Regions from separate parts of the Homo sapiens genome. Here region 1 is linked to region 2. Evidence: fine-mapped expression QTL. A gene starts in region 2. The other region holds a variant in brackets. All regions are shown on one strand. Distances are from middle to middle. Region 1 holds the start of SAXO4 (stabilizer of axonemal microtubules 4). Region 2 holds the start of CPSF7 (cleavage and polyadenylation specific factor 7).

Region 1 (15,675 bases), 48 kb before region 2:
CCAGAGGGACCGAGACCAGGAGGGGCCGTGAGCAGGAGGAGGAAGGCTGGGGGAAGAGGAGTAGCGTTAAATCGCGAGAAGCCACATTGAGGCTATTTTGGAAATAGCCAATATCAAATCCTTTGCTCTCCCATCTTTCTTGGCGCCCTGAGCCCACCCTGAGCTGGCTTCTTGGGTGAGTCAGTGCAATACTTGTCTTGAGGTGGGAGGAAGAGGCGGGTGTGGCCCCTCTGCCCCACCCCGAAGCCCTTAGCTGGGCTGCCACTCACATGTCGGAAGTTCTCCCGCTCCAGCGGGTCCTGGCCCTGCTGCTGGTGGAGCAGAGGCACTTCCCTGGGCTCCAGCCCCGTGATGGCCTGAGGCCCGTGCTCCTGGGTGTCGAAATGGACCTTCCGGACCTGGGAGGAAGAAGGGCCAATTACAAGTGAGGGGGCGGCAGTCACTCCCTGACTCTGCTTCTGCCCTTGACCTTTACAGAGCGCAGTATCTGCAGAGCAGCCAGAGGGGGTCCTTTTACAATGAAACCTGCATGTCCCCTCTCTGCTTAGAGCCCTGCAGCCTTCCCATCACACTCGCAGGGAATTCCACGTCCTCCTGGTGGCCTGCAAGGACCTGAGTGCCTCACCCTGCTCTAGCTGCTTGTCTCCTTTCTGTTCCCACCTTGAGGCCTTTGCACTTGCTGTTGGCACTGCCTGGACCACTCCTCCCTCAGACAGCTGCAACTGGAGGAGCTGGCCTCCCTCAAGTTTTTGTCCAGTGTCTCCATAGCAAGCTCTTTCCCGACCCTCCCGATTTGCAGTTGCAACTCCTTCGCTTCTAATTTATTTATTACTTACATTTTTTGAGACAGAGTCTCGCTCTGTTGCCCAGGCTGGAGTGCAGTGGCATGATCTCAGCTTCCTGCAAACTCCACCTCCTGAGTTCAATCAATTCTTGTGCCTCAGCCTCCCAAGTAGCTGGGACTACAGATGCAAGCCACCACACCTGGCTATTTTTTTTTTGTATTTTTTTGGTAGAGATGGGGTTTCACCATGATGGCCAGGCTGACCCAACAGCAGTTGGCCTCAAGTGATCCACCTGACTCAGCCTCCCAAAGTGCTGGGATTACAGGTGTGAGCCACCACGCCTGGCTTTATTTTTTTTTAGTCCAAGTCTCATTCTATTGCCCAGGCAATCTCAGCCTCACTGCAACCTCCGCCTCCCGAGTTCAAGCAATTCTCCTGCCTCAGCCTTCTGAGTAGCTGGGATTATAGGTGCGTGCCACCATGCCCAGCTAGTTTTTGTATTTTTAGTAGAGATGGAGTTTCACCATGTTGGCCAGACTGGTCTCAAACTCCTGACCTCAAGTGATCTGCCTGCTTCAGCTTCCCAAAGTGCTGGGATTACAGGTGTGAGCCATCGCACCTGGCCTCCAACTCCTTCACTTCTCTTCCTCCCTGCTTCTCCCTGTTGTATTTCCTAACCCCCGCCCCACCCCGCACTCCACCCGCTCTTATCATCTTCAAATATGAAGGAGATATTCAGAACATTCTCGCTGGATGAATGAATGAGTGTCCATTTTGGTGGTGGTGCTGATGATAAGAAGGGTGGTAATAATGAGGATAGAAATGAAAAAGATGGGGCTGGGCGCAGTGGCTCACGCCTGTAATCCCAGCACTTTGGGAGGCTGAGGCGGGCAGATCACGAGGTCAGGAGATTGAGACTATCCTGGCTAACACGGTGAAACCCTGTCTGTACTAAAAATACAAAATATTAGCCGGGTGTGGTGGCACATGCCTGTAATCCCAGCTACTGGGGAGGCTGAGGCAGGAGAATCGCTTGAACCCAGGAGGTGGAGGTTGCAGTGAGCCGAGATCGTGCCACTGCACTCCAGCCTGGGCAACAGAGTGAGACTCCATCTCAAAAAAAAAAAAAAAAAAAAGAAAAAGAAATGAAAAAGATGGGGTGAGGATGTCCATGGTGGGGGGACAGTGGTGGTAGTAGGGACAGTGATGGGGCTTGCAGGTGTGGACGGGAGTGTGAGGCTCATGGGAATGGGGACAGGGATGGGGATGGAAATGGAGGTGGAGGTAATGGTGGGGCTGGGGCAGGGAATAGAGGTGGTGGGGATGGTGGGGACAAGGATGAGGACAAAGGGGAGAAAGATGAGTGGACCCCATCCCTACAAGGTGGCTGCTCCATGCCCTGTCACCTCCACCTTGACCAACTGTTGGCAGTGCAGCCCTAGCCCCACCCCACCCTGAGGCTTCCCTCTCCTGGCCCTGGCCCAGCACTGACCTCCTTGGTGGGGGGACCCGCACTGGGCTTCTCCCGCCCATAGCCTGAGCTGGTCTGGCGCATGCTCCAGGGCAGGGGATGCTTGCCGTCAGGCACCTCCAGGGGGCGGTAGCTCTGGCTGGCCACAGACTGGAAATGGTCCTGGGCTTGTTCCCTGAGGGTGAGGAGGAGCTAGAACCCCAGGCCGCCTGCCTCTGTCCTCTGCTAAGGAGCTTCCCTCCTCCCTGCACCCTCCCACAGATGGCTCAGAGGTCCGCTGTGCCCTGAGTCACCCAGGACCCCCAGCCTAGGGCAGGCAAAGCTCAGGGTCCCCATCCAAGGAACCTGGAGTTGGTCTGATGAGCAGGGCAGGGGCTGGGAAGGGGCCATACAGACCGTACCCCCTGGCCGGGTTGTCTAAGGCCTCCAGACTGGCTTGGCATGAGACCACGGGCTGGAAATTTGATTTGTAGCCGGTGCCTACGTGACTGCCCACACGGGGCTTGAAATCCTCCCGACCTGCCAGAGGGGTAACGGGGAGACAGACCCCAAGGTCAAAAACAGGCAGGGCTTCCCAGGCAGGGCCAGCGTCCTCCGAGGGGCACAGGGGTCACAGTGACAGGGGAGGGCTCAGAGCCACGGGCAGGAGCTTTGCAAGCCTGCCCTTTCAGGACTGTGATGGCAGGAAATGGAGTGGGTGGGCTGGGGACAAGGTCAGTGTGGCAGAATCACAGTGACAGAATTGCAGGGACAGAACCAGAGAAGGGAGCAGCCGGGCAGGGCCCAGGGGACAAACGGATTCAGCAGTTGCTCTGCAGTGTGACAGCCAGAGGGTCTGCTCCTCCCTCAGAGAGAGCCCCTCCCTTCCTGCCCATGTCCTAGCAGAGGCTCCTGCGCAAAGGCACCCTCACCGTAGGCGGTGCAGTAGCTGGTGGCGTAGAATTTCAGGGGGTCCGTGTAGCCCCCCGAACTCATCTTCACATAAGGGGAGACGACCCCCAGGGGGAGTTTCCCCATCATGATGCTGTGGGGCAGGGCCCCAGGGGGCCTAGAAAGGAAGCACGGGGAGCCTCATGGGTCCCAAGCCTGGCTCGGAAGCCCACAGGGGCGAAGATCTGCCCCCCACCACCCACAACGCAGCTGGCCCCTTCTCCCAGGCCTCTGTCTCTCTGCCCCAGCTCCCAAGTCCCTAAACTAAGGACGAAACCGATCATCCACACTTATCCCAAGAGTCCTCATGTCTCCTCTCACTTTCCCACACCTTCTTATTAACTCTTCCTGTCCCCATTTACCACTGGGACAGTGAGGTTCCAAGTGATAAAGGATTTGCTCCATAATAGGTGGTAGTGCTGGGATTCAGACCTAGGTGTTTGACTACTCGGCCCCTGACCTGAACCTTACATACCCACCTCTCGGAATGAATGAGCCGACAACCCACTACCTGGGGAATTCTTGGCCCCCACCCAAGAAGTCAGGCCGAGGCGCTCACTCCCAGCCCCCGGCTCCTCTCTCTCCCTCATCTCCA[T/C]GGCCTTGCCCGCCTCTGGCCTTGCCTGCCTCCCCTGGGAATTGGCTGCACTCTCCCCGAGGCCCAACCACAGCGGCCCCACCCTCACCTTTCCTCTGCAGAGGCTCTGAGGTCGGGGAGAGGCTGCAGGAAGCAGAGCTCTGCAGAGAAGCCAGCCCTCCTGGAGGAGGCCAAGCAGGAGAAACAATGTGTAGCCTAGCAACTGGTGCCTAGCAACAGCGTCCCCAGGCTTCTGAGACCTTCTAGGGCCAGGGCCCACTGAGGGGCTGACCTGGCCAGGAGGGGAGGGTCAGAAGCTGCCCGAGCAAGGCCCTGCTTCCAGGGCTCCGGCCCCAACCTCCGGCCTCCTCCACAGGGCTGGGAAGAGTTGCTGTCTGCGTGACATAAAATAAAAGATAATCCCGAACACTCACTCCCATAAAGTACCCACTTCTCGGCAGATACTTTACATCCTCTATCTCCATCCTCTGAGCAGCTCTTCAGTAGCTATGATTATCCCCATTTTCACTGGGGGAACATGAGGCTTAGATAAGCAAAATGACTTGACTCCAGAGATCTCGCAATCAGAAAATAGCCAAGTTGAGATTCAAACGTGGGTGGATGTGGATCCCGCTCTTCTGCCTCTCGGTAAATCAACATTTACTATGTTCCTCTGGAGCTGAATCTGTGCTAAGCCCTTTAACACACATTACGTCGTGTAATCCCCCAAACCACCCTGTGAACTGGGCACTATTATTGTAGGGCCAATAAACCGCAGCAGTTAAGAGTGTGGTTCAAATCTGATCTGTCACCTTTGATGAGGTACTTATCCTCTTCACGCCCCCAAATCCCCATCTTCGCAAGGGACGTGACTGCACCCACCTCACAGGGCTGCTGGCAGATTTAGCAAGAGCATGGATTCAGCACCTGACAGGTAGTAAATGCTCTTTTTTTTTTTTAAGAGAGACAGGATCTTATGCTCTCACCTGGGTTGGAGTACAGAGGTACCATCATAGCTCAGTCCAGCCTCCAACTCCTAAGTTCAAGCAATCCTCTTGCCTCAGACTCTCAAGTAGCCAGAACTACAGGTGTGCTCCCCCCTGCCTGACTTGCTTATTTATGTATTTATTTGTTGTAGAGACAGCGTCTTGCTATGTTGCTCAGGCTGGTCTTGAACTCCTGGCCTCAAGTGATCCTCCTGCCTCAGCCTCCTGAGTTGCTGGGATTGCAGGGGCAAGCCACCACACTCGGCAAATGCTCAATTTGCAAAAGCTGCTGTACTTTTAGTCTTATTTTGCAGATAGGAAAGGCGAGGCTCAAGGGGAAATAGCCCAGGCCCCACAGTGGGTGGAGACGGAGCCTGGACTCAAATCTGAGTGCGCAAACTCCACAGTGAGAATCTTCTTCCATGACAGCCTTTTTGCCTCAAATTGGCTTTCAGGCTTGTAAATGTTGTAACAGTTAGATCTCTGGGTGGGGTGGGATAGCCCTACTTTGCAGCATTTGCCAATTTCTGTGATGTCAGTGGTCCCATCAGGGCTGCTTTCAAACCACCACTACAGTGTCTTTGAACCGGGACATGGGAAGGTCGCTCACCACTGTACGGGAGTAGTCCCATCATGCAGACATAATGGGCGTAAGTAACCTCGACAGCACAAATAATAGAAAAATGTACTCACATAATTAAGGGGTGATGAGTTTTAGGTATTTTTTTTTGTTTTTAATATAATTCATTAAATTGCAGGTTTAAGTTATTTATTTATTTATTTATTTATTTATTTATTTATTTATTTATTTGAGATGGAGTCTTGCTCTGTCCCCCAGGCTGGAGTGCAGTGGCACGATCTCAGCTCACTGCAACCTCCATCTCCTGGTTCAAGCAATTCTCCTGCCTCAGCCTCCTGAGTAGCTGGGATTACAGGTGCACGCCACCACGCCCAGCTAATTTTTGTATTTTTAGTAGAGATGGGGTTTCACTATGTTGGCCAGGTTGGTCTCGACCTCCTGAGCTCAAGTGATCTGCCTGCCTCAGCCTCCCAAAGTGCTGGGATTACAGGCGTCAGCCACCGCGCTCGGCCAGTAATTTAATTTTTAACAATGGCAGAGTTAAAAACCAGCTTGCCAATTTCCTGGAAGTTTCGCCTTCAGCTCTCCTGAGCCGGTAGAGCTGGCTTCAGAGCACCCCTGCTCTCAGGGGAGAGTGAGGTATGAATGAAGGCTGAATAAAGGGAAAGGAGGCATCTCCTTTCCTCACCCAGGAGATGCCCTTGCCGCATTCATCCTGTAGTGACCTGGCCTGCCAGGGTGGAGGCTCACTCGTGTCCTCACCCAGCCCCCCATGGGAAGGCAAGCTGAAGCACGTTTGGCACCCACCCTCCGGACTAACGATTCTGTTCAGGGATCACAGGGCACAAGGACACAGGAGTGAGTGCACACAGCCCTGCCCTCCAGCAAAGTGCTCCCATTCTACTACAGAGGCTCGTGGGAGTTCCACACACGAAGCACAAAGGGTGAGACCACCATAGGTGAGGTGCTCACAGGGTGAAGGGAGAGAGGGGCCCTCCTCTAAGTGTGCCTGGATAAGTGGCTACGAGCAAGAGCTTGGACTCTGAAGCCAGATGGTGTGGGTCCTGTCTCTGCCACTAGATAACCGTAAGACAGTGCATGTTCCTTGTGCCTCAGTTTCCCCTTCTGGAGAATGAGTATAATAATGGTAACTACCTGCAGGGTTGTGGTACGCACGAAGCATTTAGCCCAGTACCTGGCACACGGTAGGTGCCATCTAAGAGCTAGGGAAAGAGGTTCCTTTTGAGTACTCACTGCCTGCTAGGCAAAGGGTTGGGCCTAAGGGTTACAAACAGGAAATCCACATGGCCCTGGCCTCAGAGAGCCCACGGTTTAGGAAGGATCTCAGATGTAGCAAAAGAAAGCTCACTGTGGGAGCCCGAGTTCAAAACCTGCTTCTGCTGTGTGTGACTCGGGGCTTCCTCTCTTTGAGCCTGTTTCTGTACCTGCAGGCAGGGATAACTGTGCCTACCTAGCAGGGTCGCTGGTGGATTTGAAATACCCTATGCACAAGAGGTAACAGGCCTGCACCAGGCAGAGATAAGGAAGGGCCCTCTACGTGGAAAGCCCGACAAACACAAAGGCGGAGACAGGTGTCCAGCAGGCTGGGAGCCCTGACTAGTGCAGCGTGGCTGGAGCACTGCGTGGGGAGGAGAGGCTCAGCTGGGAGAAGCAGCCCCCAGGTAGGCTGTAGCCAGGTTTTCCTTTTAGCAGGTGGAGGGGGCAAGGAGGGGTGGTAGAAAGGTTTGAAATCATCCCTTAGGGCTTCTCTTAGGGAGGCTCTAGGCTGTAGCCGACCAAGGACCTGGGCAGGAGTTCAAGGGTCGGGGATCAGGGTCTGGCCGGCGCTGTCCCATCAGAGCCCCCATTAGGTCCCGTCCTCCCGGCGGCCCGTGGGTTTTTTGCTGTGTGGCGACACCCAGCGGCCATAACTCGGAACTGCAGGAGATGCCGCAGATGAATCCCTAAGACCGGGGTCGGGGGGTCCTAGGAGTTGGGGACAGAGCAGCTCCGTCGACCTGGCCACAGCCCCACCCCAAGCCTCACTCACCCATCCCTCCAGAACAGGAGGGTTGCGTCTGGGCAAGGAGTGTTCCGGGAGGGCAAGCGCTGGAGCCCACAAGGAGCGGGAGCCCAGGTGCCAGGTGACCCAAGAGCAGCGTGACTTTTGGACCTGTCACCTGTGGACCTCAGTCCTTCTATCTACAAAATGAAGGAACAGACTAAAAGTCCTTCCATACTGGAAAATCTAGGCCCACCTCATCCCACTCCCTTCCCATATCTGTCCCCATTTATTCAGCACTTTATTGTGCCAGAGCTGAGCTACGAATCACCTCATCATCGCTTTTCACTCCCGGCTCTACGTGGGAACTACTATAATCCTGCCCATGTTACATGTGAGGAAACTGCCTGAGGCCTCGCAGACAGGGAGGAGTGGAGCTGGGATCCAAACTCAGCTTTGACCCTGGAATCTATGCCCCGCCCTCTGGAACACACCAGCAAATTCTCCAGAAAGCGCCGGGACCTTAGCACTGGGCTTTTCCAAAGGGATGATTTTCCAAAGGGATGGGCTGCCCTGGCCAGATGGGCAACTGCCTCCTACTTTCTAGCTCTGCCCAGTCCTGGGCAGTAAGATTCCCGTTTCCAGCCGGGCACAGTGGCTCATGCCTGTAATCCCAGCACTTTGGGAGGCCAAAGCAGGCAGATCACCTGAAGTCAGGAGTTCGAGATCAGCCTGGCCAACATGGCAAAACCCCGTCTCTACTAAAAATACAAAAATTAGCAAGGCATGGTGGTGGGCGCCTGTAATCCCAGCTACTCGGGAGGCTGAGGCAGGGAGAACTCCTTGAATGCAGGAGTAAGAGGTTGCAGTGAGCCGAGATTACACCACTGCACTCCAGCCTGGGCGACAGAGCAAGACTCCATCTCAGAAAAAAAAAAAAAAGATTCCCCTGTTTCCCTCCCATACGAAGGCAGAGGCTACAGACACACTAGGTTAGCAGAGAGGACCCAGTGAGAGGACATGCTGGGTCTCAGCCCATAGAGTTCCTTGGCTGGGATCAGTGGGGTAGGCCCTAACAGGCTCCCGAGGCCAGAGCACACCACCACTGAGTGCTGAGTCCTGAGCAGAGACAGACATCTGCGCTCTGTGCTGGGCCATGTGGGCTGCAGTTCCCTAAAAGAGGATTAACTGAAGTGAATGAGCCACACACCACCAAGTGTGTGTCATTTTGCTTTGGTTGATGTGGGTCTTTATAGCCGCCCTCAGAGGGAAGCCAGGGCTCTTGTAGGGAAGAGACAGGTTGGCATACTTCAGCTTAATGGATAGAAAAGCCTCCTAACACACAAAATAATCCAATAGGGGAACAGGCTGCCCTGGGGGGAGTGAGTTCCCCATCCCAGGAGGCATGCAACAGCTTGACAGGATGACAATAAGAGCAAACTTTCACTGGTTCGTTAGGTATCAGGGACTGTTTCTAAGCACTTCCCATGATTAGCACAATTAAACTTCACCGCATTCCTACCTGGTGGGTGGTATCAGCTCCTCCATTTTATAGATGAAGAAACTCAGACACAGAGAGGCTGCGTAACTTGTCACAGGTCACACAGCTACTAAGGGGAAAAGCCATTATTTGAACCCAGACATCCTGACTTCAAAGGTCATGCTGGTGACCACTTTGATATTGCCTCAAAGGTTGAGCTAGAGGTTCTCAGATCTATTTTCAAAATCTGACCTCCTATGACTTTTTAAATCTCTTTTTAAACCTGATTACCTCTATAGAGAAAAAAAAATAAAAAGATTTTAAGAAAATGTTTATAGAGACAGGATCTTGCTTTGTTGCCCAGGCTGGTCTCAAACTCCTGGCTTCAAGGGATCCTCCTGCCTCGGCCTCCCAAAGTGCTGGGAATACAGGTGTGAACCACCATGCTAGGCCTAAAAATCCTTTTAAAGAGTTCACCCCTCTCATGGTCCTCAGTTTGTGCTGGGCACTGCTGGGTGAAAAATTCACAGAAGAAAGGTCTGAAATTGTTCGAATCAGCTAAGATGATTGAGAAATGGGAAACAGATCCCTGGGATGCAGCTAAAGGCACTGAGCCCTCCCAGCCCAGGAGGCTGGGGGTGGCAGGGAGAGGGTAATTATACTCCTACTTTTGAAATTCCCATGCTGGAGGCTGGGACAAGCCTAGAGTAATGTTTCTTGGCTTCAGGTGATCTGAGGTTACATGCCTGCCCCTTTCTGAGCCTTTTCTAGGCTTGAGTTTGAGGTCTGGCTCTGGCACAAATAGTGCTATGTGACCCTTCTTAATTAACTGCCTCCCTCTGATCCTGTTGCCTGTGAAGAGGGGGTTGAGCCAGGATAGGAGGTTTGGCTTGCTTTAGTTTGAGATGTGTTGTTTGGCCTGGAGAACTTGGAGCTCTGTCTTCATATACTGAAGTGATGGCTGGTTCCACGTCCCCTCCCCCTGGGCCCCTCACCTGCCATCTGTGACATAGCAGGACCCCAGCCTACCCCCTTCCAAGGTCCTTCCCCTCTGCCTTATTACAGCGGGGCATGGAGGGGAGTCGGCCTCATGCCAACCCACACTCAGCCTGGCCTCTAGGCCTGCTGGACCTGCACAGGGAGTTTCTCCCAAGCCAGACTCCAAGGTGCCCACAAAGGACACAAGGGCTCACTGAACCCCTCATTCTGCCCCCAGAGTACTGTTTCCCAACCCAGATTCTTCTGAGCCCACCAACAAAGCTCACCCAGGTGAGATGCCCCAAGCTCAGCTGCTCCAACTGACCCTTTCAGGGGAGCAGTTTGAAGCTGGGACGCAGCATAAAGGGGATCATGGCAGAGAAGAGCTGACTGGGAGGACATCAAGTCTGTGAGGCCCTGTCTTCCCTGCGATGGGGAAGAGCATGGAGCCCTGGATTCGTGCAACCACCTTTCTGTCTAGTCCTGGGAGTGGGGGCTGCCCTGCTTCATGGGCTCAGCTGTGTGAGCACCAAGGAGTGATGGGTGACATAATGACCGTGGGGGCGCAGGTTGGGTCCAGGGCGTGGTCTGCAGGCAGGCCTGTCATCGATTTTGCCCATTTCCAGTTTCTCTGCTCTGTGACTTGCAGTGATTAAGGCAGGAGAGCTGCCCAGGACTGGGGCCCCCCTTCCGAAAGTGCTTTGGGGGTTCTATTCACTGAGCTGTGTCATTACCAGGAACTGAAATAGCCCAAGTCTAATGGCTAAGTCCCATCTCTCTCTCTTTCGTAAAAGGAAATGATTCCCCTGATGACCGGATTGCTTTCCCTCACAGCCTCCCACAATCCTGGCCTCACTTGTGGTTCATTTCTCCCCTCAGTGGGCATTTCCTGGAAGACTCTATCCTGTGTATCTGATGGCTGTTCTGTTCCTGCCTGTTCTGTTCTTTTACTGTCTCCTCTGGGTGAACTTGTTGATCTCACACAAGGTTTAAAAATTCATGACTCGCGGGGAAGATGAAATGAGATGAGGCAGAAAATAAGAAGCCATTCCCAATCCTCAGATGGAATGAAGATATTCTTGGCAGAGATGAGCAAGGAACCAGGACAGGGGTCAAGGGGGTGGGTTTCCAATGCACAGAGATCTGGGTTCAATTCTGCAGCCCTGCCTTTATGAGGTATGTGCCCTTGGACAACTTCCTTAACTTCTCCGAGCCTGTTTCCTTGGCTGTATGATGAGGTCACAGTAGAACTTTAAGAGACTTAGGCTTGGAATACAGAAAAGACAATATTTACATGCTTAGCACACAGCCTGGCATAGAGAAAGCACTCAAGAAATGTTTATGATTATCATTGCATTTTCCTGCCTTCCTTGCAGTTAGATAAGGGCCACATGGCTGGTTCTGTGGGTGGAATTGAGCAGTGCCACTCCCAGTCTGAGTAGTTAGAGGTGGGTGTGAGTTTTCCATTCTCTGTGGGTAGAAATCACACTTGGGATGGAAGAACCAAAAGATGGAAGCAGGCTGGATCTCTGAGTCACTGCATGGAGTCAGCTGCCCTGGAGCTGCTTTTCCTGCAGCACACTGGGATGTGATAGAGAGATAAACCTTGCTGCTTTAAGCCTCTAAGGTTTGGGGTTTTGTTTGTTACTGCGGCATAAGCAAAGAAATGAAGATTTGAGAACTTCTTAGGAAATAAATTAGGATGTGATTCTGTATTAGTCAGCATTCTCTAGCAAAACAGAATGTGCACACACACACATACACGAGAGACAGAGAGAGACAGATTTATTATACAGAATTGGCTCTGCCTGGGCCAGTGATGCCTGTAATCCCAGCACTTTGGGAAGCTGAAGTGGAGGGTTGCTTGAGCTCAGGAGTTCAAGACCAGCCTGAGCAACACAGTGAAACTCCGTCTCTACAAAAAAAAAATTTTTTTTAATTAGCTGGGCATGGTAGCATGTGCCTGTAGTCCCAGCTACTTGGGAGGCTGAGGTGGGAGGATCACTCAAGCCCTGGAGGTTGAGGCTGCAGTGAGCCATAATCGTGCCATTGCAGTCCAGCCTGGGCAACAGAGTAAGACCCCATCTCAAAAAAAAAAAAAAAAAAAGGAATTGGCCCACGTGACTATGAAGGCTGGCAAGTCCCAAGATCTTCAGGATGAGTTGGTTGGCAAGCTGACGACCCAAGAGAGCTGATGGCTTAGTTCCAGAGTAAGTCCAAAGGCTTGAGAACTGAGAGAGCTGATGTAGTTCTTGTCTCAAGGCCAGCAGGCTTGAGACTCAGGAAGAGCCAGTGTTCCCAGGCGAATCTGAAGGCAGGATAAAAGCCTGTGTCTCAGTTTGAAGGCTACCAGGCAGAAAGAATTGCCTTTCACTTGCGAGAGTGTAAGTCTTTTTGTTGTATTCAAACCTTGAGCTGATTACATGAAGCCCACCCCGGTTAGGGGGACAGACTGCTTTACTCAGTTTACCAATTTAAATGCCAATTTCATCCAAAAACATCCTCATAGAAACACCCAGAAGAATACTCGATCACATATCCAGGTACCCAGTCACCTAGACAAATTGAGACACAAATTAACTGTCACATTCAGGCATATGAAACTCACTGGAAGCAGACAGATGAGAGGCCTACTGAAATTTTGAGAAAACAGTAATGCCCAAAAAAAATGGGGCTTTTTTTGTTTGGTTTTTGTTTTTTTTTTTTTTTTTTTAGAGAAAGGGTCTTGCTCTGTCACCCAGGCTGGAGTGCAGTGGCGCAATCATAGCTCACTGTGACCTCAACCTCCTGGACTCAAGAGATTCTCCCGCCTCAGCCTCAAGTCGCTGGAACTACAGGCATGAGCCACCGCCCCTGGCCATGGGCCTGGTCTTTAAAAAGATTGTGACTATTTGAAACTTAAAACTTCCATGGGCAGGAAGTGGGCTGAGAAATCCACACAACCCTCAAGGAGGGTGGAACACACAATCCCTACTTCAGATATGATCGAGTAAAGTAAGGTAGGGGAAAAAGAGCTTTAAATGAGGGAGCCAAGCGGCCCTGAGAGCAGCGATGAAGGTAGTTCCTTCCAGAAACTTCCCTACCCCTCCACAAGGTCTGCCCAGAAGGCCTCAGCTCCCACTTCCCGGGGTATCCTTACTGTGGTTATCCTGTCCCTGCCCCTACTCCACCTTTGTGTATGGCGTGGGGGTGGGAAGGGAGAAGCAGGTAACCTGCCTTTTTTTTTTTTTTTTTGAGATAGAGTCTTGCTCTGTCACCCAGACTGGAGTGCAGTGGCATGATCTCAGCTCACTGCAACCTCTGCCTCCCAGGCTAAAATGATTCTTGTGCCTCAGCCTCGCGAGTAGCTGGGATTACAGGTATGCGCCAGCACACCTGGCTAAATTTTGTATTTTTTAGTAGAGATGGGGTTTCTCCATGTTGGCCAGGCTGGTCTCAAACTCCTGTCCTCAAGTGATCCACCTGCCTCGGCCTCCCAAAGTGCTAGGATTACAGGTGTGAGCCACTGTGCCCAGCAGGTAACTTTTAAAATTTATTTTTATTTTTTATTTATTTTTTTTTTGAGACGGAGTCTCGCTCTGTCGCCCAGGCTGGAGTGCAGTGGCACAATTTTGGCTCACTGCAACATCTGCTTCCTGCGTTCAAGCGATTCTCCTGCCTCAGCCTCCTGAGTAGCTGGGATTACAGGCACGTGCCACCACACCTGGCTAATTTTTTTTTTTGTATATTTAGTAGAGACAGGGTTTCACTGTGTTGGCCAGGCTGGTCTCGAACTCCTGACCTTAGGTGATCCACCCCCTTGGCTTCCTAAAGTGCTGGGATCACAGGCGTGAGCCACCGCACCCGGCCCCCAACAGGTAACTTTTTAAAATTCCTACATCTCTGGACCAAAAAAGGCCACCTCTAGACCTCATAAAGAGACCCTAGGGCAGCCCATGAGATCCTGGCTGGAGGCAGGAGCTGCACATCACTCTGGGTTTTCTCTCTTGGAAAGCAGTTTCATGTTGTGTGTTGTGTGTAGGAAGAAGAGCAAATCCAATGCGGTACATGGAGACCAGCAGAACAGACTGTGGTAGAGACTTCAGGCTCAGCCAGATCTGGTTCTCTTCTCCTTCCTGGGTACCAGGGAGAACCACACCTCCCAGGCTCCTTGCAGTTCCACAGGAACATGTGACTAGCTCCGGCCCAAGGGCTCGGAGAAGTGTCACGTGTTGCTTCCAGGTTGCAAGTGAATGTGAGTTATCCGCACTTTCTCATTCCCTTTAGTAGCAACCGTGGAGACCACATGTTGAGATGGCAGAGCGTGGATCCCTGGGCTGCCACAGAAAGGAGCTGTCCTGAACAGCTGCCCAGTTCACATTGGACTTGGCACAAATGAGAAATAAGGGTTGCGTTGTTAAGTCGCTGAGATTTGGGGGTTTATTTATTATCATAGTCTAGCCTAACGTGACTAGTACACCTTTCAATTAGATAGTGGCTAACTATATCATGCATAGGAGGGAAAGGAAACATCTAGAAAGTATGGTAAGTTTGTGGTTTTAAGAGAATCCTGTGGCTGGGTGCAGTGGCTCAGGCCTATAATCCCGGCAATTTGGGAGGCTGAGGTGGGAGAATTGCTTGAGGCCAGGAGTTTGAGACCACCCTGGCCAACATAGCAAGACCCTGTCTCAAATTTAAAATTTAAAAAAGTTAATTAAAAAAACAAAAAAAAAAAGCCCGGGCACAGTGGCTCATGCCTGTAATCCCAGCACTTTGGGAGGCCAAGGCAGGTGGATCACAAGGTCAGGAGTTCAAGACCATCCTGGCCAACATGGTGAAACCCCGTCTCTACTAAAAATACAAAAATTAGCCAGGCACGGTGGCAGGCGCCTGTAATCCCAGCTACTCGGGAGGTTGAGGCAGGACAATCGCTTGAACCCGGGGGGCAGAGGTTGCAGTAAGCCGAGATCGTGCCACTGCACTCCAGCCTGGGCGACAGAGTGAGACTCCGCCTCAATAAATAAATTAACCAATTAAAAAAAAAAAAGGCCAGGTACAGTGGCTCACGCCTGTAATCCCAGCACTTCAGAAGACCGAAGTGGGTGGATTGCTTGAGTCCATGTTTGAGACCAGCCTGGGCAACATGGTGAACAAAAAATTAGCTGGGCGTGGTGGCACATGCCTGTGGTTCCAGCTACTTGGGAGGCTGAGGTGGGAGAATCGCCTGAGCCTGGAAGGTTGAGGCTACAGTGAACCAAGATCTCGCCACTGCACTCCAGCCTGGGCAACAGAGTGAGACCCTGTCTCAAAAAAAAAAAAAAAAAAAAGAGAATCTCATAAAACACTCAAAACATTTTCCACTAACTTGTTGAGTCTCATTAACAACTTCCATTTGCAACAGATATCAATGGTCTTGGATCCAGCACAGGCAGCTTCATAAAGAGTCTCTACCTTCATTTATTTCATCAGTCAATTAGTCATTCAATGAACATTTAATGAGCACCAACTATGTGCCAGGCACTGTGCTAAAACACAGAACAGAATGGAACGTAATGTATGTATGGTCCTTATCCCCCATGGAACTAGTAGTAGAGAGAGTTACACATAATCTCTCTGGGCTGGGCTTGGTGGCTGGCACCTATAATCCCAGCACTTTGGGAGGCTGAGGCAGGCGGATTGCCTGAACTCAGGAATTCAAGACCAGCCGGGGCAACATGGAGAAAGCCGATCTCTACCAAAAAAAAAAAATAGCCAGGTGTGGTGGTGTGCGCCTATGGTCCCAGCTACTTGGGAGGCTGAGGTGGTAGGATTGCTTGAGCCTGGGAGATAGAGGTTGCAGTGAGCTGAGACTGTAGCACTACACACCAACCTAGGTGACAGAGTGAGACCCCATCTCAAAAAAAAATTTTT
Region 2 (16,265 bases):
TCCAGCCTGGGCAACGGACCCTATCCCCCTGAAAAAAGAAAAGAAATTATGCTGATATTGTCCCCACTTTATAGCCAAGGAAACAGAGGCTCAGGAAGGTTCAATAACTCACCCAAAATCATCCAAATAGTAACTGCAATTAGAATTAAAACACAGTCCTAACTGCAAATGTGTCCCTAACCAGTGCCTTTCCAGAAACTATCCCAGCAGAAATAATTTTTCCTTCCTTTGCACTCCCTTAAAATTCTTACAGTGTGGTTTATACTCTACTCACTCACCTGTGTCAAATCCTGAGCACACAGAGACAGCATGATCCCTAATCCCCCAAAGGCTCCCAATCCAGAGAAGTTGACAACTTATCAAGATATGATGTCAAGGTGGTGACCTCAGCAAGAGGTGAAGATGGTGGAGTAGGAAACCCCAGATCCTCCTTCCCCGATGGAGACACTGAGCCAACAGCAACAAACAAACCAATTCCCTGTGAGAAATCCAGAAACCAGTAAGAGGCTCCTGCTCCCCAGGTGAGCACAAAACCAGCTGCATCGAATCCAGCAGAAAAATTTGTAGCACTCATTTGCCATAGTCTCTTCCCTCCCTGCTCAAGCATGATCATGAGATAACCCCCAGCTCCTAGCTTCTACCTGAGACAGAAAGAGAAGACTGAAAAGTATGTATAATGTTCGGACTTTTGGGGGGATCAGGTTTCTGTTTTGTTTGAATCTAAGTGCTAACAGAAAAGGGCAGCAGGTTGAGGGAGAACAAAGAACCATGGAGAACAAAGGTGACAGTTTAGACTGGCAAGCACTCACTCCCTCATCACTCATCCTTGGCTCAGTGCAGAACAAGCAGGAGAAAACTCCCACCTCCCAGCTTCTCCCTAGGGAGGGAAACAGGTGCAGTATGCATCCAACATTCTAGCTTTTTGGGGCTCTCTGGGGGACTGGTTTCTGTCTCTAAGCACTTGAAAGGATCTAGCACACTCTAAATGCCTGGGTGGCCTGCTGCTGATCCAGAGGATCCCTGAAACTGCAGAGAAAGGCCAATACAGCCCAGTGGCCTCTCCCAGGGTTGAGGGGAGTGGAGTGTGCATCTAATATTCTGACTTTTTTTTTTTTTGAGACGGAGTTTCGCTCTTGTTGCCCAGGCTAGAGTGCAATGGCGCGATCTCGGCTCACCACAACCTCCGCCTCCCAGGATCAAGCAATTCTCCTGCTTCAGCCTCCCGAGTAGCTGGGATTACAGGCATGCCCCACCACGCCCGTCTGATTTTGTATTTTTAGTAGAGACAGGGTTTCTCTATGTTGGTCAGGCTGGTCTCGAACTCCCGACCTCAGGTGATCTGCCTACCTTGGCCTCCCAAAGTGCTGGGATTACAGGCGTGAGCCACCACACCCAGTCGTAACATTCTGTCCTTTGGGGAAGCTACCAGAGGGACTGGTTTCTGTCTTGCCCAGCTTGGGGCACTGATGGGACATGGCATACTCTAAAAGTCTGGAGGCCACCGACAGCTGGGAGACTTGTAGCAGCTCCAGAGAAACTGCAGTATCATACGCAGACACTAGAGGGAGCAAGAGATTATGGGCTCCTGAAAAAGGAAACCGGCAAATCCCTCTAAATGGGAATTTACATCCGCAAGTCCAGAAAAGACACATCCTCAGTAAAGGATTGAGAGGCCCTTGGAATCTCTATCCATGCTGACTAGTGAAGGCCAATCACCAGTACAAAGACCAGGAGAGACAGATGATTTTTCAAATGTAGAAATCACCAGTACAAGTTACCAAGCACATGAATAAAGAGGAAAACATGGTCCTATTAAAGGAACGAAATACATCTCCAGAAACTAACCTTAAAGAAACAGAAGTATATGAATCACCTATAAAGAATTCAAACTAGCCATAATAAAGATGTTCAATGAGCTTTGGAACATTGAGAACTTGAACATTGAGCTTGAACAAAATGAGAAAACCAAAAAAAAGACAGAAAACATTAAAAAATAACCAAATGAAAATTTTGGAGCTGAAGAATACAGTAACTGAATTGAAAAATTCACTAGAGGAGGCCAGGCACGGTGGCTCATGTCTATAATCTTAGCACTTTGGGAGGCTGAGGCTGGAGGATCGCTTGAGCTCAGGAGTTCGAGAACCAGCCTGGGCAACACAGTGAGACCCCGTCTCTAAAAAATAAAAATACATAAAAATTAAAAAATTAGGCCCGGCGTGGTGGCTCATGCCTGTAATCCCAGCACTTTGGGAGGCCAAGGCGAGTGGATCAAGAGGTCAGGAGATCAAGACCACCCTGGCTAACAATGGTGAAACCCCGTCTCTACTAAAAATACAAAACATTAGCCGGGCATAGTGGCGGGCGCCTGTAGTCCCAGCTACCTGGGAGGCCTGAGGCAGAAGAATGGCGTGAACCCAGGTGGCGGAGCTTGCAGTGAGCTGAGATCGTGCCACTGCACTCCAGCCTGGGCAACAGAGCGAGACTCCGTCTCAAAAAAAAAAAAAAAATTAAAAAATTAAAATAAATTAAAAAATTCACTAGAGAAAATCAATAGTAGACCTGATCAAGCAGCAGAAAGAGTCAGCAAACTCAAAGACTGGTCATTTGAAATTAGTCAGGGTTTTTTCTAAAAAAAAAAAAAAAAAAAGGAATGAGAAGGAGTGAAGAAAGCCTTAGGGACTCCATCAAGGAGATCAATATACACATTATGAGAGTCGTATAAGAGAAAGACAGGGGCAGAAAGCTTATTAGAAGACATAATTGGCTGGTCTCAGTGGCTAATGCCTGTAATCCCAGCACTTTGGGAGGCTGAGGTGAACGGATCACCTGAGGTAAGGAGTTCAAGACCAGCCTGGCCAACATGGCGAAACCGTCTCTACTAAAAGTACAAAAAGTAGCCAAGCATGGTGGCGCGTGCCTGTAATCCCAGCTACTGGGGAGTCTGAGGCAGGAGAATTGCTTGAACCCAGGAGGCAGAGGTTGCAGTGAGCTGAGATTGTGCCATCGCACTCGTCTCAGTGATAGAGTGAGACTCCATCTCAAAAAAAAAGACATAATGGCTAAAAACCCCCAAAGTTGGGGAAAGAAGTGGACATCCAGATTCAAGCCTAACAGATCTCAATTAACATGAACCCAAAGAAGTCCATACTGCGACGTATTTTAATCAAACTGTCAAAAGTCAGAAAAAGCTGGGTGCAGTGGCATGACCCTATAGTCCCAGCTACCTGGGAGGCCGAGGTGGGAGGATTGCTTGAACCCAAGAGTTAAAGTACAACCTGAGCAACAAAGCAAGATCCTATGTCTTTAAAAAGTCACAAAAGAGACACCAAGGATGTGCATGCACAGAGAAATGTGAGGACACAGTGAAAAGGTGGCCATCTGCAAGGCAAGGAGTGAGGCCTCGAAAGAAACCAAACCTGCCAACACCTTGCTCTTGGACTTCTAGCCTCCAGGACTATGAGAAAATTAATTTCTGTTCTTCAAACCACACAGGTTATAGCAGCCCTAGTAAACTAATACAGCATGCGATGAAAATTCAGATTCCCAAGCCCCACCATAAACATTCTGGATGAGAATCTCTAGGACTGGGCCCTGACGAATGAATTTTTAACAACCCTCTAAGAGATTCTGATGCAGACTGAAGGCAGGGATTCCTACTTTCTATACTAAAATAACATGATTGAGTAATTTCTACAGAAATGAATGCGGATGGGGAGGACTATCCTCATCAGTACAAGGAAATTGTTCTAATAATTGGGATGTCTTATTATTTTAGCCAAATTTCACCCATTTTTTTCTGTTAGTATCAAGGCAGCATTCCATAAAAGAAACAATAATGGTTGTCACATAGTTCCAGGGAATTGTGTGATACTGGTATGAGTTGTGTTAAATTATCACTGGAGGCCGGGTGCGGTGGCTCACGCCTGTAATCCCAACACTTTGGGAGGCTGAGGTGCGCGGATCACGAGGTCAGGAGATGGAGACCATCCTGGCTAACACAGTGAAACCCCATCTCTACTAAAAATACAAAACATTAGCCAGGCATGGTGGCGGGCGCCTGTAGTCTCAGCTACCCGGGAGGCTGAGGCAGGATAATCGCTTGAACCCAGGAGATGGAGGTTGCAGTGAGCCAAGATCGCGCCACTGCACTCCAGCCTGGCAACAGAGCGAGACTCCGTCTCAAAAAAAAAAAAAAATTAAATTAAAAAAATATATAGAGAGAGACAAGTACAGAATACTATAATACTGTAACTGTGGTATGTAAGTCACTTTTAATTTTGGTATAGAAATTAAAGACAAAGGTATAAAAACAACTATAAAAATTTGTTAATGGAGACAATATAAAAAGATGTAATTTGTGACATCCACAACATACAAGGGGGTCATAAAAGAGCAGAGTTTTTGTATGCAATGGAAATTAAGTTATCAAAACAGATTGTTATGTTTTATATAAGCCACATGGTAACCACAAAGAAATACCTGTGTAAGACACACAAGGAAATGAGAAATTCGTTTCTCAAAGTATGTCACTACAAAAAAAAAAAAGTCAACGAAATATAAAGGATGACAAGAGTGGAAAAGAGGAGCAAAAAGGTTGTAAGACAGAGAACAGTTTACAAAACGGCAACAGCAAGCACAGTTGGCCCTCCGTATCTGTGGGTTCCACACCTGTAAATTCAACCAACTGCACACTCAACCAACTGTGGATCAAAAATATTCAAAAGAAATAAATAATACAACAATTAAAAAACAACTAAGATATAGTATAACAAGCATATACATAGCCTTGACATTGTTTTCGGTATTATAAGTAATCTAGAAATAATTTAAAGGATATGGAAGTATGTGTGTAGATTATATGCAAATACTATGCCATTTTATATAAGAGACTGAGCTTCTGCAGAGTTTGATATCCACAGCGGATCCTACAACAGTCATCCCATGGATACAAAGGGATGATTGTACTTCCCTATTTTATTTATTTTTTGAGACAAGGTCTCACTTCCAATGCCCAGGCTGGAGTGCTGTTGCAAAATCAAGGCTCACCGCAGCCTTGACTTCTCAGACGCACTCCCGCCTCAGCCTCTCAAGTAGCTGGGACTACAGGTGTGTACTACCACACCTGACTAATTTTTTTTAGTAGAAAAGGGGTTTTGCCATGTTGCCCAGGCTGGTCTCGAACTCCAGGACTCACACGATCCACCCACCTCGGCCACTATTTACTTTAGGTATAAATGGATTAAACTCCAGGCCTGGCGCGGTGGCTCACGCCTGTAATCCCAGCACTTTGGGAGGCTGAGGCGGGCAGATCACGAGGTCAGGAGATCGAGACCATCCTGGCTAACACGGTGAAATCTCGTCTCTACTAAAAATACAAAAAATTAGCCAGGCGTGGTGGGGGGCGCCTGTAGTCCCAGCTACTCCTAAACCAGGAGATTGGCGTGAACCCAGGAGGTGGAGCTTGCAGTGAGTCGAGATCATGCCACTGCACTCCAACCTGGGCGACAGAGCGAGACTCTGTCTCAAGAAAATAACATAACATAACATAACCTCCCCAACCAAAAGACATGAAGTGGCTGAATATAATGAATTAAAAAAAAGATTCAACTATATGCCGCACAAGAGACATTTTATTAAAATCTGGAAATCAATGGCAAAAGAAAAGGTGGAAAATTCACAAATATGTGGAAATTAAACAACACACTCTTGAACAATCAATGAGTCAAAGAAGACATCAAAAGGAAAATTAGAAAATATCTTGAGACACGCCGGGAATGGTGGATCACACCAGTAATCCCAGCACTTTTTGGAAAGCTGAGGCAGGAGGATCACTTGAGGCCAGGAGTTTGAGACCAGCCTGGGCAACATAGTGAGAACCTGTCTCTACGAAAAAAAGAAAAAAGAAGGGAAACAACAGGCCGGGCGCGGTGGCTCACGCCTGTAATCTCAGCACTTTGGGAGGCCGAGAAGGACGGATCACCTTAAGTCTGGAGTTCGAGACCTGCCTGGCCAACAAGGTGAAACCCCATCTCTACAAAAATACAAAAATTAGCCAGGCATGATGGCGATGCCTGTAATCCCAGCTACCTGGGAGGCTGAGGCGGAAGAATCGCTTGAACCCGGTAGGTGGAGGTTGCAGTGAGCCAAGTTCGTGCCATTGCACTCCAGCCTGGGCGACAAGAGCAAAACTCCGTCTCAAAAAAAAAAAAGGAAAACAACAAAAAACAAACAAAAAGGAAATATCCTGAGACAAACTAAAACCCAACATATACAAAATTATGAGATGCGACAAAAGCTGTACTAAGAAGGAAGTTTATAGTGTAAACGCCTACATCAAAAAAGAATAAAGATCGAGTCCCTGGGTCTGCAGGAAAAAAAAAAAAGAATAAAGATAGGGATGGGGGTAGGAGGGGAAGATAGAGGCAAAGTTAGTTACTTTATAACAGCAGGCTAGGAAAAAAGAATAATAAGTTCCAGTGTTCTATTACATATTAGAGTGACTACAGCTAATAACACTGTACTGTATATGTCAAGATGCTAGAAAAAGATCTTGAAAAGTTATTACCGTAAATAAATGATAAAGATTTGAGGTGATGGACATGCTAACTACGCTGATTTGATTATTCGATGTACACATGTATTAAAACATTATACTGTACCCCCATAAACACGTACAATTATATGTCAATTATAAACAAACAAAAAGCTGAAGATACTATGTGAAACCACGAAAAGCATTAAAGACTAAAGAACGGGGAGAAGGGGAGCCCAGGGAAGTTGGGCTAATCCCGCCTGGGACGTAGGTGAGAGGCGAATTGGGTCTTGGACGATGACTGATCGTTTAAGCAGATATTTCCAGACCGGCACACAGTAGGCTCACCAAAGAATGGAAGCGACCTTTATTTCCTGAGTTGCAGGATCGGCCTCTCCCTGGGCCTGCCCTTGCCCTGCGCTATCGGGCAGACGAACTCTCCCCAAGATAGAGACCACAGAGGAAGACAAAGGGTAATCCCCGCTGCCGCCCGCCCCGGACGCTAGAACGTTCTCTCTCCTCACCAGCGACGAAGTCGAGAACACTGTAGACACCGCCATTTTCCCCACCTGCACCGGAAACCGGCTGCGCGGGCACTTCCGGGAACTCCTAGCCGCCCGGCCAGCCGACCACGGCAGCCACGGAGGAGCTGAGCCGGAAGGTGCGTCCCTGCGCATGCCGGAAGTGGCGGTGCGTGTGACGCCGGCGGCGGGGGGGGCGGGACCTGGGGCGGAGAGCGGTTCGCGCGCTTCGGGCCTAGTCCGGACTCGCCGCCGCCGCCGCCATATTCCCGGTAACGGGGGCGCGCGGTCGGGGGCAGGTTGGGCCGGAAGAGGGGTCCGGGCCGGCACTGAGGCGGGAAGGGGGTCGGTTGAGATGGGACGGCCGGAGTCTGCGGGCGGAGGGAGTCGCGGGCCTTTTGAGGGAGGAGGCAGAGCGCGCCGGGCCGGGTTTGTCGGGAGGGAGCGGGGCGGGCCTAGCTGGGGGCGAAGAGTAGGCCTGGGTTGGGGGCAGAGGCGGCTGGAGCTGCTTGACACCTGGGGGCTCTGGCCGGAGCCGCCTTGGGGGCTAGGCAGGTGCAGCGGATAGGGGCTGCGGGCTTCGCCGCGGTCATTCTTCGCAACGCCGTCCTAGGGCCACTAGGACCCGAGGGTGGGACTTTTCCGTCGCGCCATAGGCAGCTGCGGCGCAGACGCGGCGCTACCCGGGTCGGGCCCGAGGGTGATGGGCAGCGACCCCCGGCGGCCTGGGAGAGCGGTGGGCGGCGCGAGGCCGGGGGCGGGGCGGAGCGGGTGGGGCCGAGCTGGGGCCGCCAGGATGCTGCGTCTCTGGAGATGGGAGGTTAGCAATCATTACCCTCTTCCCAGCCCAGGACCCTCGTGCCTTCTAATTCTTGCATTTTTCCGAATCCCGCAGTGGCATCTTCCTTACTTTGTCCATCCTCCGGACTCGCGATCTTCCTTCCGGAGCCATGTCAGAAGGAGTGGACTTGATTGATATATATGCTGACGAGGAGTTCAACCAGGTGAGGTGTCATCAGGAGCTTTGGGATTTTCCTTGATCATCTGAGGAATCATTTTCAGCAAACTGGCAGTGGTTTCAAGCTGTACCAGTCCTAGGCTTGAACACGCGTCTATCCGGTCTAAAATTTTTCTCCTGCAGAAACTTTAAAGACTACACTCCATTCCTCTTTATGTTAATTTGAAGCTCCAGGCTTAATTTTAAAGGCTTTGATTTAAGAGCAAATAAAAAGCAGGTGTAATAGAATGGTGAATCAACCTGTGGAATTTACTCCCCAGGAAGCCAAAGGTGGGTGTCAGACTAACCACACTTAAAAATCAAAAGTACATTTGCTACGGTATTCATGAGGACAGTGTTGATACCGGTTCCTTTACATTCTCAACCTGCAGCTGGAGAAGTGTAGTCCCCTCCATCGTGACAGTGCAAAAGCAAAGTAGAAAAGATGACTTTAACATTTAGTTTCAACTCCATTCCAATTAAGTTTTACTTCCTTTTATAAGTAGGTTGACTCCAGTCATGAGAAGTCCACAGGCATTTTGGTATAATAAATTGTATTGGTTACCTTTAGTCTTTCTAGAGGGAATAAAAGAGTAAAGACGTTAGACAAACCAGTTAGAAAACTGATAATAGACCCATGCACATACCCTCAGTTGGATTTGTTTTTATTGTACCAGGGAACATTATACAGAAATTTATCTAGAGCTGGGCAAGGTGGCTCTTGACTGTAATCTCAGCTGCTCTGGAGCCTGAGATGGGAAGATTACTTAAGACCAGAAGTTCAATACCAGCCAGGGCAACATACCAAGACCCAGTCTACAAAAATGTAAAAAAAAACAACAACGAGATATGGTGGCTTGTGCCTGTAGTCCCATCTACTCTGGAGAGTGAGGCAAGAGGTACTCCCTGAGCCCAGGAATTCAAGGCTGCAGTGAGCCATGATTGGGCCGCTGCACTCTATCCTGGGCAACAGAACAAGACCCTGACTCTTAAAAACACAAGAAAAATTCTCTCAAAGAAATAATCTTCCATGCAGTTAAGTTTTTCAGTCTTGAGGTCAATTCTCAAGAATGTTCCAAAATTTCTATTGAAAACGTACTAATATCTTGCCTGGGTTATTTTCAGCACCATTCTATGTAAGTAAGCTGGCTCTTCCCATTTGCATCTTCCAGTGGGTACACATAAGGACCTGGTAAGAGCATGTATTGAATGGGTTAGAAAGGGAAAGTTCCCTGGTTTGACCCTGACTTTGATATGAGGCAACAGAAGAGGCGGATACATGCCATTTATTTTTCACTTGGCATAAGTTTACATGAAAATCTATTTTTTGATGTATTATGGTTTTATAACATGGAAATTATAAACCATACACAAAAGCAGAATAATGTAATGACCTTGTACCCATTATACAGCTTCACCAATTATACTTTTTAATGGCAGGTTTCTTGTCTCTGTTGTGGTTAACTGTGGTCCTTTAAATATAGCTGCTGATTATCTTAAATAGATGAATTTTCCTTTTTTTTTTTTTTTTTTCTTGAGACAGAGTCTCTCTCTGTCACCCAGGCTGGAGTGCAGTGGCGCGATCTCGGCTCACTGCAACCTCTGCCTCCCAGGTTAAAGTGATTCTCCTGCCTCAGCCTCCTGAGTAGCTGGGACTACAGGCGTGGGTCACCTCACCTGGCTAATTTTTGTAATTTTAGTAGAGACGGGGTTTCACCATGTTGGCCAGGTTGGTCTCGAATGCCTGACCTTGTGATCCGCCCGCCTTAGCCTCCCAAAGTTGGGATTACAGGCGTGAGCCACCGTGCATGGCGAAAAAATTTTTTAGTTTTAAATAAGTCCAATAATTATGGATAAAAGAGAAAAGTTCTAGATGTTAATTTAGTTACAAAATCATTGTTTTCCTGAGTTTTCCATATTCATTTGAATCAGACTTTTAATACCTTAAAAAAAAAAACACACAGTCTTGCTGTGTTGCCTAGGCTGGTCTCTCAACTCCTGAGCTCAAGCGATTCTCCCACTTCAGCCTCCCAAACTGTTGGGATTATAGGTGTGAGCCACTCTGCCCAGTTCAGACTTTTTGCAGATTATGTTTTTCCCCCACCAAGATAACAAGAGCGGTCCTTAGTTCTTCTCTTTTTTTTTTTTTTTTTTTTTTTTTTGAGACAGAGTCTCTCTTTGTCGCCAGGCTGGAGAGCAGTGGCACCATCTTGGCTCGCTGCAACCTCCTTTTCCCAGGTTCAAATGATTCTCCTGCCTCAGCCTCCTGAGTAGATGGGACTACAGGCGCGCGCACCGCCATGCCCAGCTAATTTTTGTATTTTTAGTAGAGACGGGGTTTCACCATGTTGGCCAGGATGGTCTCAATCTCTTGACCTTGTGATCTGCCCACCTCGGCCTCCCAAAGTGCTGGGATTACAGGCGTGAGCCGCCGTACCCAGCCACCTTTGTTATTAATGAAAAGCTTTTCCCCTTCTAATTTCTTATCTGTGGATTGATAATAGTGCCATTCATTTCACTTTGAGAAATACGCAGAACTCATTGTCCAGTGGTCACTGCTTTGTTAGAGTATAAGTTATTGGCCTCAATAGTTTGTTCTCTGGTCTCCTCAGTTAAAAAGGACTTTTTTATGGGTCTAAGACAGGCTAAAGGTAGTATGTGGACTTTAATAGATACATATATCCAACGGGCAATATTTGACACTAGGCAAGCTGAAGAAAGTGTGAATTTTGAATATCTTATGTTTTGTGGAAGGTGAGGGATGAGTGCTTCCCCCCCACACACATATCAATTAGTTATTTTTGACAAAGTTAGTGTTAGTGTCATCTGGAAGCTACAGAAATTATTTAAAAAACAAAAAAACAAAAAAACTTTGGCTAGAATTGTTAGAAGCTGGCTTAGTCTGAAGGCACCCAGTACAAATTGTGTTTTAGAATGTTTTAAGAATGTTACTGATTTCGCCCCAAGCTGGCCCATGCACAGGAAGCCCTTCATGTGCACTTTGCTCCTCAAGGAAAATTAATATTTTTCCTAGATGGAACCCTATGGTGCTTATTCCCTGATCTCTTAGAGCATTTGCTGCAAAAGCCTGTTTTTGCCAGAGCTACTTTATTCCTGTAACACAGGGAGTCCTGGGATTCACATTGGCTCTCTTGGGCCAGGGAGAACTCTGGAAAGGTGACTGAGATCAGTTGCTCTGCTGGGAGTTTTGGCTTTTCATACTGAGACAGGCTTTGCACAGTGTCCAGTTCTCTTCCTTATGTCCATCAATAAGTATTTATTTATTGAGCTACTTGTGTTTGCTAAGCACTGTGCCAGGACTAGTGAGGTAAAAGGAAAAAAAAGTGGGTCCCTGTACTCAAAACAGATTCCACTCCTGGTGGGTAGGGGTGGTGGACAACGACAATGTACAGTGAAGGACAAGGAGGGTGTGAAGTGGGAACTGTGGAAATGGTCATTATAAAGCCAAAATTTTTGATTAAGCCTTGGTTACAATTAAAAGAAACAATGGTATCAAGTTGGTTGCTCTGAGAAAAATAAATCCTAGGCTAGTTACTTCCCTCAGTGGGATATGAGGAAGAAGAGGGTGGAGGTTAGGAACACTGAGCAGACAAGTGGAGAAGATCTTATTTAAATTGAAAATCACACATGTTCTCTTTTGTTTACAGGGAAGCAGGAAGTTTCATGAGACAGTCACAGTTCTTTCTGTGCCATTAAACACAAAATTCTTTGAGATAGTTATTCAGTATTAAATATATGTTTCATGTTTAATCTCCCTGGAATGAAACTTTGAACATCAGTGCATGTAAAATGTACTTTTCACTTAATTTGTAGAATTTGATTTTACTTTAATCTATTACTGCATAAATCCGCTGAGAAAAATCTCCGGCCCTTAACTGTGTTTCTGTCTTACTAGCTGAACAAGTAAAATGAATTGTGATGCTGGGGGATTAAAATCCAAACAATTTGATACCTTGTTTCTTCAGTAGAACCCTCAACAGACCTGCCCTGTGCAGTTCCCACCAGCTTCTTTGAACTGAGGCTCTGTGGCCCAGAGAGACCATTTAAATCTTGTGATAATTTTGTATTCATTCAATCCTTTTGTTTCTAAAAGTGGTAGCCATACCAAGATTCTCCAGGATCTAGTCTATCCTATTCTTAAGGGATCTTAAAACAGTGGATTGGTTGCCTAAGCATATAGTACGAAGGGTTTCCTGGTGATGCATTTGGTCTCTGAGCTGTCCAAATCTGCATGTTAGTCCACTACTCAATTTTCAGTGATCATTTTTACATTACAAATTTTAGACACATATACCTGAATTACAGATACTGCATGGAAGGGAATCTCAGTTTGGTTCCATTCGATTATCCAAGATGATGTGTTTCCTTATTCTGTTTACGTGTCATTTGAAAATCCTTGATTTAAAAAAAAAGAAGGCTGGGTGCAGTGGCTTACGCCTGTAATCCCAGCACTTTGAGAGGCTGAGGTGGGAGGATCACCTGAGGTCCGGAGTTAGAGACCAGCCTGGCCAACATGGTGAAACCCCATCTCTACTAAAAATACAAAAATTAGCTGGGTGTGGTGGTGCACACCTGTAATTCCAGCTGCTCGGGAGGCTGAGGCAGGAGAATCACTTGAACCCAGGAGGCGGAGGTTGCAGTGAGCCAAGATTGCGCCACTGCACTTCAACCTGGGTGACAAAGTGAGACTCTATCTCAGAAAAAAAGAAGAATCTTGGTGTGAAGTAGTGCTTTCTAAGGATTTGAGCATTGGATGGGATCAAGTGATGTATATAAATCCTTTCTCTACCTTGAACCACAGGAGCAACTCACCATACCTGGTACATGAATAGAAGAGTGATTTGTCTATAGAGTTGGGATAGTTTGAGACGTAACAGCTATGAAATATTTTATAGTGATTACTTACACACAAAATGTTTTCCCACTCATTAGCCCTAGCTGACCTCACCTTACTTTATTATCCACCCTGTCCTCTCCAGTGTTAGCTTCTCTCCTCATTCTTTACATGCTGACCCTTTTTATGCACAATCCTTTTTGATGGATTTGACTACATGGAACAAGCTTCCTGTGCTTATTTGCCTCACTAATTTCTTGTTGTTAAGTTGCCCCCTAAAAGTTTACTGTCTCTTGATATTCTTTTTCTAACGTTTTTACAAGGGTTAAGCCCTCCTGGTGGGTTTCTTAGAGTGTTTTAATATTTGAAATTATTTATATGCTTTAGGAAGTAGAATCCTTCCCCCTTCTCTATCAGAACAACCCAAGATTATTCTCTTAGTGTGCATTTTCTTCCACTGTACTTCAGATAAACTGAAAAACTGAAAGATTGTTTCCAAAGGTTCTTATAATACAAGGACTGGTCTAAGAGTAAATTTTTTAGTGAGTCGTCTTCAGATCACTTCAGAATTAGCAGTTATTGCCGTGATATTGGAGGGAGAAAGTTAAGGGAGCCGCCTGTCTTTAGTTGCCTTGGAGAAACTGTTTCTTCAGGGTACTAGACAAGTTTCCCAACTTAGGTGCCTCCTTTATTCCCTTTTTAAAAGAATAGCAATATGAAACTGCCGTAGCATCCTTAAAACACTGAACTACTTGCTGTCTCTGTCATTTTGGCAGCATTATCTTTAGCATTGTTTGAATGTTTTGTCTAATTCTTGTAATAAAAATAAAATGCTTGTCTAATCCTTAAAAAGATTTCTCTGAGGCTAGGCACGGTGGCTCACGCCTGTAATCCTAGCACTTTGGGAGGCCGAGGTGGGCAGATCACGAGATGAAGGGTTTGAGACCAGCCTGACCAACATGGTGAAACCCCATCTCTACTAAAAATACAAAAATTAGCTGGGCATGGTGGTGTGTGCCTGTAATCCCAGCTACTCAGGAGGCTGAGGCAGGAGAATCACTTGAACCCAAGAGGCAGAGGTTGCAGTGAGCTGAGATGGCGCCACTGCACTCCAGCCTGGGCAATGGAGCAAGACTGTGTCTCAAAAAAAAAAAAAAAAAAAAAGATTTCTCTGAGGTAATTACATTGTAGAATCCTGAACCCTTTTTTTTTTTTTTTTTTTTTTTTTGATATGGGGTCTCACTCTGTTGCCCAGGCTGGCTCACTGCAACCTCAACCTCCCGGGCTCGAGTGATCCTTCTGCCTCTCGAGTAGCTGGGACTATAGATGTGTGCCACCATGCCCAACTAATTTTTGTATTTATTGTAGAGATAGGGTTTCACCATGTTGCCCAGGCTGGTCTGAAACTCTTGGGCTCAAGCAGTTTGCCTATCTCTGCGTCCTAAAGTGCTGGGATACAAGGCGTGAGCCACTGCACCCAGCCTGTAAAATCCTAAACATTAAGGTCCTGTATCGTAGTAGTAGTAGTTGTAGTTTTAGGGGTTTTGGTATATAGTAAGTAAGATATCACATAGGCAGAATATGTATTTTGCACATTTTCCATAATACATATTCATATTGTAAATGCTTACTGTGTGATACAGTTTATGTTCTTGTCCTGTTTTCTGGCCCTTATATTTTAGAGAACTTTAACTGTTTTTTGTATATCATTGAATATTGGCTGGGCATGGTAGTCACCCCTGTAATCCCGGCACTTTGGGAGGCCGAGGCCAGTGGATCACTTGAGTCCAGGAGTTCCAGACTAGCCTGGGCAACATGGTGAAACCCTGTCTCTACAAAAAAAATTTGAAAATTAGCTGGGCATGGTTGCGCATGTCTGTAGTCCCCAGTTACTTGGGAGACTGAAGTGGGAGGATCACATGAGCCCAGGAGGTTGAAGCTGCAGTGAGTTGTAATTGCACCACTGCCCTCCAGCCTGGGTGACAAAGTGAGACCCTGTCTCAAAAAAAAAAAAAAGTCTCCTAGATACATGTCATGGTAATGCATTGGGCCTGTATGTCATTTAAGAAATAGAACTTAGTAGGGGAAAACCCCTGTTGTTATTCCCTTCCCTTTTATTTATTTTTTATTTTCTCCGATGGAAAGATGGGATTGTGTACAATGAGTTTAGAGCTTTCCTAAATCATTTATACCAATCAAGGGATTTAAATCAGTAACTCCCAATCTTTTCTGCATTTTTGTACCCACTTTCATGCTTTTCCTCTGCATTCTGTTTCTAAATAAATTTATTATTAAATAGACAAGTGAATTTTATGTAACACTTGATTTTGGAAATAGCATAAGATACTGAAAATAAGTTTTCATTAGCTTATCTTAGATGTGGTCTTTAGAAGCTGACCTTATTGATAACAGCAGCCCATGCATCTCATTATGCATTCTTTCTTTGCTTGCTTAATCACCCAGTGCTTTTTGATTCTTGCCGTTGGCTAAAGCCAGAAACTTTACAGACTATTAACAGAATCTTGAGGGGAAAAAAATGTACATAAGCATAATTAAGTGATACAGTTTCAAAAGGAGGTTTTTCTTACTTTGTTTCCTGGGGTAGGACAAGGAAGTTTTGTACATGTTTTACCAAGTATTTAACTGGATTCTAATAAACTAGAGTGAAATAGAATGAACAAAATGAAGTTTGCAGACCTACCTTTGCCAACCCCTCATCTCTTAGGACCCAGAGTTCAACAATACAGATCAGATTGACCTGTATGATGATGTGCTGACAGCCACCTCACAGCCCTCAGATGACAGAAGCAGCAGCACTGAACCACCTCCTCCTGTTCGCCAGGAGCCATCTCCCAAGCCCAACAACAAGACCCCTGCAATTCTGTATACCTACAGTGGCCTGCGTAATAGACGAGCTGCCGTTTATGTGGGCAGCTTCTCCTGGGTGAGTGTGGGTAACCAAAAATGCTTAGGGGTGGGCTGGAGGGAGAGCACTGGGAGGTGATGGCATTTTCAGAAACTACTGTTGCACTGTTTTGTGCTCTGATGGGGTTGGATTTCTTTTTCCTGGGATCAGGTTGGATTGATCTCTGAAAGAGAACTATCCTGAGGACGTACTGGTGCCGAAGAAAGCAATGATTAAGTGGGTAGTTGCTTTTTCTGCCATCTTGTTACTGCCCCTGACCCTGGGGCTTTATGTCTAGCAGGGTCATCTGAGGGACGAGATTTCAGAGTGAACACCTTGAACTCTTGGTGGTCATTAGATGGTCCTGTGATAATGGTGGGTGATGGGGATTAAAGACCTTGATAACTCTAGTATACTTGGGGTAGGTGGTGACTGTTGTTCTGCAAGTTATTTTG

Evidence for each region.
Region 1: its variant is fine-mapped to the expression of CPSF7 in whole blood (INTERVAL, PIP above 0.99).

Annotation. Positions count from the first base shown.
Region 1 is chr11:61,469,411-61,485,085 of GRCh38, reverse strand. SAXO4 (stabilizer of axonemal microtubules 4) reads right to left here and starts at 3,966. Exons shown (of 14, transcript NM_145017.3): 1 at 3,870-3,966; 2 at 3,168-3,304; 3 at 2,658-2,775; 4 at 2,278-2,431; 5 at 270-398. The coding sequence starts at 3,276. RefSeq lists an enhancer at 2,235-2,529. The variant T/C (reference allele first, on the strand shown) is at 3,782.
Region 2 is chr11:61,420,974-61,437,238 of GRCh38, reverse strand. CPSF7 (cleavage and polyadenylation specific factor 7) reads left to right here and starts at 7,264. Exons shown (of 10, transcript NM_001142565.3): 1 at 7,264-7,325; 2 at 7,949-8,057; 3 at 15,631-15,849. The coding sequence starts at 8,004. It overlaps SDHAF2 (succinate dehydrogenase complex assembly factor 2), which reads right to left and starts at 7,115. Exons shown (of 4, transcript NM_017841.4): 1 at 7,057-7,115. The coding sequence starts at 7,092. RefSeq lists enhancers at 6,985-7,044, 7,401-8,049 and silencers at 6,991-7,326, 7,185-7,354, 7,465-7,894.